2 separate regions of the Homo sapiens genome follow, and region 2 is linked to region 1. The links come from fine-mapping of genetic effects on gene expression. A gene starts in region 1. The other region holds a variant in brackets. All regions are shown on one strand. Distances are between the middles of the regions. Region 1 holds the start of SIN3B (SIN3 transcription regulator family member B). Region 2 overlaps CPAMD8 (C3 and PZP like alpha-2-macroglobulin domain containing 8).

What was found. PIP is the estimated chance that this variant, and not a neighbour inherited with it, causes the effect. A credible set is the group of variants that fine-mapping cannot tell apart.
Region 2: its variant is the best candidate, but not a certain one, in a credible set for the expression of SIN3B in whole blood (INTERVAL, PIP 0.63).

The regions. Positions count from the first base shown.
Region 1 is chr19:16,826,959-16,832,331 of GRCh38, forward strand. It overlaps SIN3B (SIN3 transcription regulator family member B), which reads left to right and starts at 2,440. Exons shown (of 19, transcript NM_001297595.2): 1 at 2,440-2,582; 2 at 2,833-2,939; 3 at 4,536-4,689. The coding sequence starts at 2,463. RefSeq lists an enhancer at 2,166-2,667 and a silencer at 2,408-2,587.
Region 2 is chr19:16,958,374-16,963,746 of GRCh38, forward strand. All of the region lies in intron 18 of CPAMD8 (C3 and PZP like alpha-2-macroglobulin domain containing 8), which reads right to left. Among named protein-coding and RNA genes, the nearest start is that of CPAMD8, 66 kb to the right of the region's middle. RefSeq lists enhancers at 2,408-2,967, 2,968-3,525. The variant C/A (reference allele first, on the strand shown) is at 3,153.

The sequences.
Region 1 (5,373 bases):
TTGTACAGATGGGATCTTGCTATGTTGCCTGGGCTGGTCTCAAACTCCTGGCCTCAATGCATGCCCCCACCTTGGCCTCCCAAAGTGCTGGGATTGTCAAGGGCTCATTTGTTACACAGTCATAGCAACAGAAATTTAGGAACTGTTACATGTATACCTTCTCTTTAAAGTATTTGTTACATGTGAAACTTTACATTTGTGTGATTACTAGATTCCTGTCTATCCTGAGAGACTAAAAGCTCTTAACGGCCAAATTTGCGTTCCTTTTTACCATTCTATTCCTGACACTTAGCAAGGTGCCTGGTAAATGATGCACTCGATGCCAATTTACTCTCAACTTTCCTGCACCTCTTCACTTATAAAAAGAGAAAGCACTTGGTCATTAATTGAACGTTCACTTATTTGATGAATGCTGACTGAGAGACTGTGTCAGGGATTTGTATTAGAGACGGACACAAAACAAATATGAAATACAAGGGACTGAGGGGAGACATAGAAGGGGACTGGGAACACTTCCTGAGGGAAAGGGATATTTGGGCTGCGTTTAGAAGGATGTATAGGTGTTTTCTGAATAACAAAGAGGCATGACAGTACTTCTGGCAAAGGAAATGGTGAGTGCCAATGCTTGGGACCAGGAAGCAGCCAGGTTGGTCAGGCAATTGTGTGAAGTTCTGCACAGAGGCAGGCAGTTTGCTTGGAAAATCCTGCAGGAAAAGGTTCCTAAGGACCAATTCTGACAGCCTGCAATGTAGGTGCTTAGATTTCATCTCATTAGAAATAGGAAGACCTTGGAGGTTTGGAAGGAGTGGTGGAAAAAGTGGAGTTTTTTGTTTTTCTGTTTTTTTTTTTTTAAGAGATGAGATGCTCTTTAAAAAAAAAAAAAAAAAAAAGCACTGCTATGCTTCCCAGGCTGGGGTGTGCAGTGGCAAGATCATGGCTCACTGCAGCCTTGAACTCTTGGGCATGAGCAATCCTGCCTCAGCCTCCCGAGTAGCTGGGACTAAACGTGTGCACCACCACGCCCAGCTAATTTTTTCATTTTATTTTATTATTTAATTAATTAATTAATTAATTTTTTGAGACAGAGTTTTTGCTCTTGTTGCCCAGGCTGGAGTGCAATGGCGTGATCTTGGCTCACTGCAACCTCCGCCTCCCGGGTTCAAGCAATTCTCTTGCCTCAGCCTCCCGAGTAGCTGGGATTACAGGCATGCGCCACAAAGCCCGGCTAATTTTGTATTTTTAGTAGAGACGGGGTTTCTCCATGTTGGTCAGGCTAATCTCCAACTCCAGACCTCAGGTGATCTGCCCGCCTCGGCGTCCCAAAGTGCTGGGATTACAGGCGTGAGCCACGGCGCCCAGCCAATTTTTTCATTTTCTTTTTCTTTTTTTCAAGGCCCGGCTAATTTTTTGTATTTTTAGTAGAGACGGGGTTGCACCGTGTTAGCCAGGATGGTCTCTATCTCCTGACCTCGTGATCCGTCCGCCTCGGCCTCCCAAAGTGCTGGGATTACAGGCGTGAGCCACCATCCCCAGCCTAGAGTTCTTGATAGTATCAGGGCTGAGAAAGTACCAGAGTTAGAGCCAGGTGGGGTGGCACTAAAAGTACAAAAAATTAGCAGGGCGCAGTGGCGGGCGCCTGTAGTCCCAGCTACTCAGGAGGCTGAGGCAGGAGAATGGTGTGAACTCGGGAGGCGGAGCTTGCAGTGAGCGGAAATCGCGCCACTGCACTCCAGCCTGGGCGACAGAGCGAGACTCTGTCTCAAAAAAAAAAAAAAAAAAAAAAAAAAAAAAAGAAAGTACCAGAGTTAGGAGGCTCCTAAACTGGTCCAGATGGGAAGTGACGGGGCCAAGGATAGGGAAGTGAAGATGGGAGGAGTAGGACTAACTTAAAGGCCATTTAGCAAAAATTCACCACGCAAGGCCCTATATTAGGGCGCTGGGGGCTCATACCTCATCGTCCCGTCAACTCTATAAAGCAGGGGCCAACAAACTTTTTCCATAAAAGGCCAGATCGTAAATACTTCAGGGTCTGCAGATCTGTAGGATCTTTAGCAACTACCTACTCTGTTGTAAGGCGAAAGCAGGCAGAGAAGCCAGGTAAACGCGTGGGCGTGTCTGTGTGCTAATAAAACTTTATTCAGGGACCCTCAAATGTGAATTTCACAAACTTTTCACAGGTCATAGACTATTCTTCTTTGGATTTTTCCCCCGGCTATGTAAACATGTAAAAATAATTCTGAGCTTGCGGGGCCGGACAAAGTAGGCGGCGGGTCTTGGCTCGCCTACCCCTGCTATATAAATCATTAATTATGATACCAATCTTAAGGAGAAGGTCTTCAGAAGAGTCCCTCAAAGAGCACCGCCCCTCAACGTCATCAAACCCCGCCTCCAAAGGCGGAGGCTGCGCATGCGCGGCAGGACCTCGGGCGGGGGCGGGGCGGGGCGCAGCTCCGACTTCGGACATGGCGCACGCTGGCGGTGGCAGCGGTGGCAGCGGTGCCGGCGGCCCCGCGGGCCGGGGGCTGAGCGGCGCCCGCTGGGGTCGCTCGGGCTCCGCAGGCCACGAGAAGCTGCCGGTGCACGTGAGTGGCGTCCCCGCCCTCCCTCGGGGAACCCATCTTCTGGACCCCGCGGGCGGGCGCCCCTCACCCAGGCCCCGCCCGGCCCCAGCCCCACCTCGGCCTCCCCTCTGCACTGCCCCGGACCCCTCACCCCTCACCTCTCACCTCGGCCCTCCGAAAGCCCAGCCCATCCCCTTCCCCTCAGGGACCCCGGCCCCTCGTCCCCTCGTTCCGCGGCCAGGGCCCACCGGGACCCTCCCCCTCTCTGCAGGTAGAAGACGCCCTCACCTATCTGGACCAGGTGAAGATCCGCTTTGGCAGCGACCCTGCCACCTACAACGGCTTCCTGGAGATCATGAAGGAGTTCAAAAGCCAGAGGTACCAGCGGGGCCCCTCTCCACCTCAGGGGACCCCCCTGGGCCGGAATCGGGCCTAGCGGGGTGAGACCTCCCCTCTCCAGCCTGCCCCCTTAGCCGGGTGACCTTGCGCAGGTTGTCCAATCTCTCAGAGCCCTAGCTCCTTCTCGTAACAAAAATGGAAATGGGTAGTACCCACCTTGTGGAGCTTTGTGGGGATTCCTGGAAGCAGGACAGGGATCTGGGGGGAGGCAGGGAGGGCGAGGCCGTGCACACTCATAGAGTCAAATCCTGCCTTGATTTAATATGTTGATTTTTATATTAGTTTTGTTCATGAAAGATTTGGTGGGACCCATTTTGATTTTTATTTTCAAGCGCTGTAAAATGTTATTGTCTTGATGATTGAAATTTTTGGCACCCTCTTCCCCTTTAATCTTGTCCTCAAGATGCTTCTCTGGGCTCACTGTGGTCCCAGGCCTGCTTGGAAGTAAGACGCATAAAATGCTTAGTAAGGGAGCTGGCACACAGAAAACGTTTAAAACACATGAGATGATTTTGCAGGCCCAGAATCAAGGAAGATTACAGATAGATGGGAAACCCTGGGATCATGCCCTTGTTTTTATAGGAGACTCACTGAGGTTTGGAGTGGGTAAGGGACCCACCTAAGTGGCAGAGGTGTCACTAGAACTCAGACCCTCTGACTCAGATTCTTGGAAGTCACATGCTTACCATACTGCTGCCCCCTCTTAGGAAACATGGTGGGGCTGGCCTGGTTTCCTTCCGGGAGCCCAGTGCTAAGGGCTGGGCTGCAATGCAGCCAGAAGGGAGACCCCATCTCTCCCCTCCTATTTTTCTTACACCTTTCCCATTCTTGGCAGTACCATTGGTATTTATGCATTGCAATTGTTTGCTCAGATGGAAACCTGTGTCATAGTCATCTCTATCTGATACAAAATGAGGGAAGTTTTCACATTGCTTAGAGGACTTTGGCCTCCTGCCATTTCTTGGAGTCCAGGCCTTGCGGTTGGCTCTCCTGACATTTTCAGAACCGAGTACCCATTCTTGGAGTGTTTTAGGGGAGCTGAGCGATGTCAGTATTCTCTGGTTCTCACCAGGAGGGAACAGGGAGCTCAGGCCTAGCCAGTCAGGAGATAGGTCATGGTGTACAGATGCTATCACATGGGGGCACTTTTTTTTTTTTTTTTGAGATGGATTCTCGTGCTGTCGCCCAGGCTGGAGTGCAGTGGTGTGATCTGGGCTCACTGCAGCCTCCGCCTCCCGGGTGCAAGTGATTCTTGTGCCTCTGCCTCCTGAGTAGCTGGGACTGCAGGCACGCACCACCACTCCAAGTTCGTTTTTGTATTTTTAGTACAGACAGGGTTTCACCATGTTGACCAGTCTGGTCTCGAACTCTTGACCTCAGGTGATCTGCCTGCCTCGGCCTCCTAAAGTGCTGGGATTACAGGCATGAGCCACTGCGCCTGGTGGGTCACATTTTAGGTTCCTTTGTTGTCTGTTGAGAAGGTTTTTATGTGGCAGTATCAAGGGAGTGGGGAATAGATTATATTTTTCATTTATTTCCCAAGACCCTTTTGCCCACTTCCGTTGTTTCTTCTAGCATCGATACTCCTGGAGTCATCAGACGTGTCTCGCAGCTCTTCCACGAGCACCCTGACCTCATTGTTGGATTCAACGCTTTTCTTCCCCTCGGATATAGAATAGACATTCCCAAGAATGGCAAGTTAAACATACAGTCGCCTCTGACAAGCCAGGTATGCCACTACAGTGGTTCGGGTGATCTCAGCCTTCACCGAGTATGTCTTGCTACTCAGGTTGGGCCACGTGTCTCTCCTGTATCATTGCTAGAAAGCCACTTAAGATCTGTTCTTTTTCTAGACGTGCTCATTGCTTCTAGCACAAATCAAAATAGATATGGAAACACCTACACAAGCAGCCTCTGCCTCCCAAATTGATCTGTTTGGAAGATTTAAATCAAGAGTGGATGTCAGGGAGGTATCCTCCTAACGCAGAATTTTGTGTGAAGTCTAAATAACCACCTCAGCAGTTGCTGAGGTCTTGGCTTGAGGCTTTCCCAGCGAGCATACCAGGCAGGCTTGCCCTTGTATTTAAGCATGTCCTCGTCTGCCTCTGATCACTCTCAGTACCACCTACAAAATAAAGTGGTCGAGATGGTGTGTGAGTAGCCACGTTTATGTTGGCTGTGTTTCATTTAATTGTTGATAGGATCATTAGCTCAGCTGGGACTCCTGGCTTTGCTTTGGTCCCTTTTTTCTTGGGTGATAGGTGCTGGCCCTCTTTTTTTTTTTTTTTTTTTTTTTGGAGACGGAGTCTGGCTCTGTCACCCAGGCTGGAGTGCAGTGGCGCAATCTCAGCTCAGTGCAACCTCCGCCTCCCAGGTTCAAGCAATTCTCCTGCCTCAGCCTCCCGAGTAGCTG
Region 2 (5,373 bases), 130 kb after region 1:
TGGTTTTCTGTTCCTGCATTAGTTTGCTAAGGATAATGGGCTCCAGCTCCATCCATGTTTCCACAAAAGACATGATTTTGTTCTTTTTTATGGCTGCATAGTATTCCATGGTATTTCTGTACCACATTTTATTTATCCAATCTGTCATTGATGAGCATTTAGGTTGATTCCAGGTCTTTGCTATTGTAAATAGTGCTGCAGTGAACATTTGTGTGCATGGGTCTTTATGGTAGAATGATTTATATTCCTTTGAGTATATACTCAGTAATGGGATTGCTGGCTCAAATGGTAGTACTGTTTTTAGTTCTTTGAGCAATCACCACACTGCTTTCCACAATGGTTGAACTAATTTACACTCCCATCAACTATGCATAGCATCCCCTTTTCTCCACTACCTCACCAACATCTGTTATTTTTTTACTTTTTTTTTCTTTTTTTTTTTTGAGATGGAGTTTCCTTCTTGTCACCCAGGCTGGAGTGCAATGGCACAATCTCAGCTCACTGCAACATCTGCCTCCCAGGTTCAAACGATTCTCCAGCCTCAGCCTCCCGAGTAGCTAGGATTACAGGCGCCTGCCACTACACCCAGCTAATTTTGTATTTTTAGTAGAGACGCAGTTTCACCATGTTGGTCAGGCTGGTCTCAAAATCCTGACCTCAGGTGATCCACCTGCCTCGGCCTCCCAAAGTTCTGGAATTACAGGCATGAGCCACCACACTCAGCTTATTTGTTGACTCTTTAATAATGGCCATTCTGACTGGCATGAGATGGCATCTCATTGTGGTTTTGATTTGCATTTCCCTTTTTTTTTTTTTTTGAGATGGAGTCTTGCTCTGTCACCCAGGCTGGAGTGCAGTGGTGCAATCTCTGCTCACTGCAACCTCCACCTCCCAGGTTCAAGTGATTCTCATGCCTCAGCCTCCTGAATTACACCTGGAATTGCAGGTGTGCCACCACGCCCGGCTAATTTTTGTATTTTTAGTAGAGATGGGGTTTTGTCATGTTGACCACGCTGGTCTCAAACTCCCGACATCAAGTGATCCACCCGCCTCGGCCTCCCAAAGTGCTGGGATTACAGGTGTGGGCCACTGTGCCTGGCCTGATTTGCATTTCTCTAGTTCAGTGACATTGAGGTTTTTTTCATATGCTTGTTGGCTGCACGTATATTTTCTTTTTTTTTTTTCGAGATGGAGTCTCTCTCTGTTGCCCAGACTGGAGTGCAATGGCACAATCTCGGTTCACTGCAGCCTCCGCCTCCCAGGTTCGAGCAATTCTCCTGCCTCAGCCTCCTGAGTAGCTGGGATTACAGGCGTCCACCACCATGTCCGGCTAATTTTTGTATTTTTAGTAGAGATGGGGTTTCACCATATTGGCCAGGCTGGTCTCGAACTCCTGACCTTGTGATCCACCCACCTCAGCCTCTCAAAGTGGTGGTATTACAGGCATAAGCCACCACGCCCGGCCTGCATGTGTATCTTCTTTGAAAAGTGTCTGCTCAAGGATGTAACTTGTTAACTCTTTTACCTGGCAGCGTTAACATTCTACTTAAGAATAGAAGAAGCAAGGTATCAAAGGCTTGGCAGAGTCCATCTTTAAACAGTCGTGCCTCCTCTCCTGGATGCAGAAGGGATAAAGGCCTGCAGGGGCCACCCTATATCCCTCCCTTTGCTAATTTCCCTCCCTGGGTTTTACCACGTTCATCTTCATCATCACACTGAACTCTCCACCTCCTGCTCACCCATCCTCTGTTTCCTAAGGAGTGCCTTCATGCATTCTTGTTTGAGCCTCAGAAGCCTCACAGTTCACCCTCCTCAAAGGCTGCTCCTTCTCCTTTCTCAAAAAAAAAAAAAAGGCTTTCTCAAAATTTGGCAAAAATAAAAATGCTCCTATCCTTTCAACCATCAACACCTCTCCTAGGAGCAGACCCCGGAAACACCCGCAGACGTGTGTGCAAACACAGAGAGATGGAGTGGTTCATCGTGGCACTAGGAAAATTAGCAAATAGCCCAAATCTCCATCATTAGGAGGACTGGAAAATCAAATGATAGTATATTCATTGGTGGACTATTATATATTTGTAAAAAAAAAAAAGAGTGAGGTAAACATGCATTTACTGATATGGAATGATTTCCAAGACTTGTTGTTAACTTTCAAAAGAAATGTACAAAATGACATTATGGTATTCTTCTATTCTTTTTTTTTTTAATCCTACATATGCACAGAAGAATATCTAAGAAATTATTCAGACTGGGCACAGTGGCTCACACCTGTAATCCCAGCACTTCGGGAGACTGAGGTGGGTGGATCACTGGAGGTCAGGAGTTCAAGACCAGCCTGGCCAACATGGTGAAACCCCCTCTCTACTAAAAATACAAAAGTTAGCCGGGTTTGGTGGTGCAGGCCTGTAATCCCAGCTACTCAGGAGGCTGAGACAGGAGTATCACTTGAACATGGAAGGCAGTGAGCTGAGATCCCATCACTGCACTCCAGCATGGGCAACAGAGTGAGACTCCTCCTCAAAAAAAAAAAATTATTCAGCTTTCCCTTCTGAAGAAGGGAATGGAGGGTCTGAGGGTGGGAAGGAGACTTAAATTTCATTATATATCCTCTTCTACTGCTTGAAAAAAATGTTAACCACATTTACATGGTTAAAAAAATATGTTGGGGCTATTCCAAGATGGCCAAATAGGAACAGCTCCAGTCTGTAGCTCCCAGTGTGATTGACACGGAAGATGGGTGATTTCTGCATTTCCAACTGAGGTACCTGGTTCATCTCATTGGGACTGGTTGGACAGTGGGTACAGCCCATGAAGGATGAGCCGCAGTAGGGCGGGGTGTCGCCTTACCCGGGAAGCACAAGGGGTCAGGGGATTTCCCTTTCCTAGCCAAGGGAAGCCGGGATAGACTGTACCTGGAAAAACAGGACACTCTCGCCCAAATACTGAGCTTTTCCCATGGTCTTAGCAACCAGCAGACCAGGAGATTCTCTCCCATGCCTGGCTGGGCGGGTCCCACGCCCGCAGAGCCTTGCTCACTGCTAGCACAGCAGTCTGAGATCGAACTGCGACGTGGCAGCCTGGTTGGGGGAGGGGTGCCCACCATTGCTGAGGCTGGAGTAAGTAAACAAAGTGGCTGGGAAGCTTAAACTGGG[C/A]GGAGCCCACTGCAGCTCAGCAAGGCCTACTGCCTCTATAGACTCCACCTCTGTGAGCAGGGCATGGCTGAACAAAAGGCAGCAGACAGTTTCTGCAGACTTAAACGTCCCTGTCTGACAGCTCTGAAGACAGCAGTCATTCTCCCAGCATGGCGTTTCAGCTCTGAGAACGGACAGACTGCCTCCTCAAGTGGGTCCCTGACCCCCATGTAGCCTAACTGGGAGACACCTCCCAGGAGGGGCCGACAAACACCTCATATAGGCGGGTACCCCTCTGAGACGAAGCTTCCAGAGGAAGGATCAGGCAGCAATATTTGCTGTTCTGCAATATTTGCTGTTCTGCAGCCTCCACTGGTGATACGCAGGCAGACAGGGTCTAGAGTGGACCTCCACCAAACTCCAACAGACCTGCAGCTGAGAGACCTGACGTTAGAAGGAAAATTAACAAACAGAAAGGAATAGCATCAACATCAACAAAAAGGACATCTACACCAAAGCCCCATCTGTAGGTTACCAGCATCAAAGACCAAAGGTAGATAAAACCACAAAGATGGGGAGATACAAGAGCAGAAAAGCTGATAATTCTAAAAACCTGCGCGCCTCTTCTCCTCCAAAGGATAGTAGCTCCTTGCCAGCAATGGAACAAAGCTGGACGGAGAATGACTTTGACAAATTGACAGAAGTAGGCTTCAGAAGGTTGGTAATAACAAACTTCTCTGAGCTAAAGGAGCACGTTCAAACCCATCGCAAGGAAGCTAAAAACCTTGAATAAAGGTTAGACGAATGGCTAACTAGAATAAACAGCATAGAGAAGAACTTAAATGACCTGATGGAGCTGAAAACCATGGCACGAGAACTTTGTGACGCAGGCACAAGTTTCAATAGCCGATTCGATCAAGTGGAAGAAAGGGTATCAGTGATTGAAGATTAAATTAATGAAATAAAGCAAAAAGACAAGGTTAGAGAAAAAAGAGTAAAAAGAAATGAACAAAGTCTCCAAGAAATATGGGACTATGTGAAAAGACCAAATCTACGTCTGATTGGTGTACCTGAAAGTGATGGGGAGAATGGAACCAAGTTGGAAAACACTCTGCAGGATATTATCCAGGAGAACTTCCCCAACCTAGCAAGGCAGGCCAACATTCAAATTCAGGAAATAAAGAGAACACCACAAAGATATTCCTCAGGAAGAGCAACCCCAAGACACATAATTGTCAGATTCACCAAAGTTGAAATGAAGGAAAAAATGTTAAGAGCAGCCAGAGAGAAAGGTCGGGTTAACCACAAAGGGAAGCCCATCAGACTAACAGCAGATCTCTTGGCAGAAACCCTACAAGCCAGAAGAGAGTGGGGGCCAATATTCAACATTCTTAAAGAAAAGAATTCTCAATCCAGAATTTCATATCCGGCCAAACTAAGCTTCATAAGTGAAGGAGAAATAAAATCCTTTACAGACAAGCAAATGCTGAGAGATTTTGTCACCACCAGGCCTGCCTTTCAAGAGCTCCTGAAGGAAGCACTAAACATAGAAAGGAACAACCAGTACCAGCCACTGCAAAAATATGCCAGATTGTAAAGACCGTTGATGCTATGAAGAAACTGCATCAATTAATGGGCAAAATAACCAGCTAATATCATAATGACAGGATCAAATTCACACATAACAATATTAACCTTAAATGTAAATGGGCTAAATGCCCCAATTAAAAGACACAGACTGGCAAATTGGATAAAGAGTCAAGACCCATTATTGTGCTGTATTCAGGAGACCCATCTCATGTGCAGAGACACACATAGTCTCAAAATAAATGGATGGAGGAAGATCTACCAAGCAAATGGAAAGCAAAAAAAGGCAGGGGTTGCAATCCTAGTCTCTGATAAAACAGACTTTAAACCAACAAAGATCAAAAGAGACAAAGAAGGCCATTACATAATGGTAAAGGAATCAATTCAACAAGAAGAGCTAACTATCCTAAATGTATATGCATGCAATACAGGAGCACCCAGATTCATAAAGCAAGTCCTTAGAGACCTACAAAGAGACTTAGACTCCCACACAATACTAATGGGAGACTTTAACACCCCTCTATCAATATTAGACAGATCAGTGAGACAGAAGGTTAACAAGGATATCCAGGAATTGAACTCAGCTCTGCACCAAGCAGACCTAATAGACATCTACAGAACTCTCCATCCTAAATCAACAGAATATACATTCTTC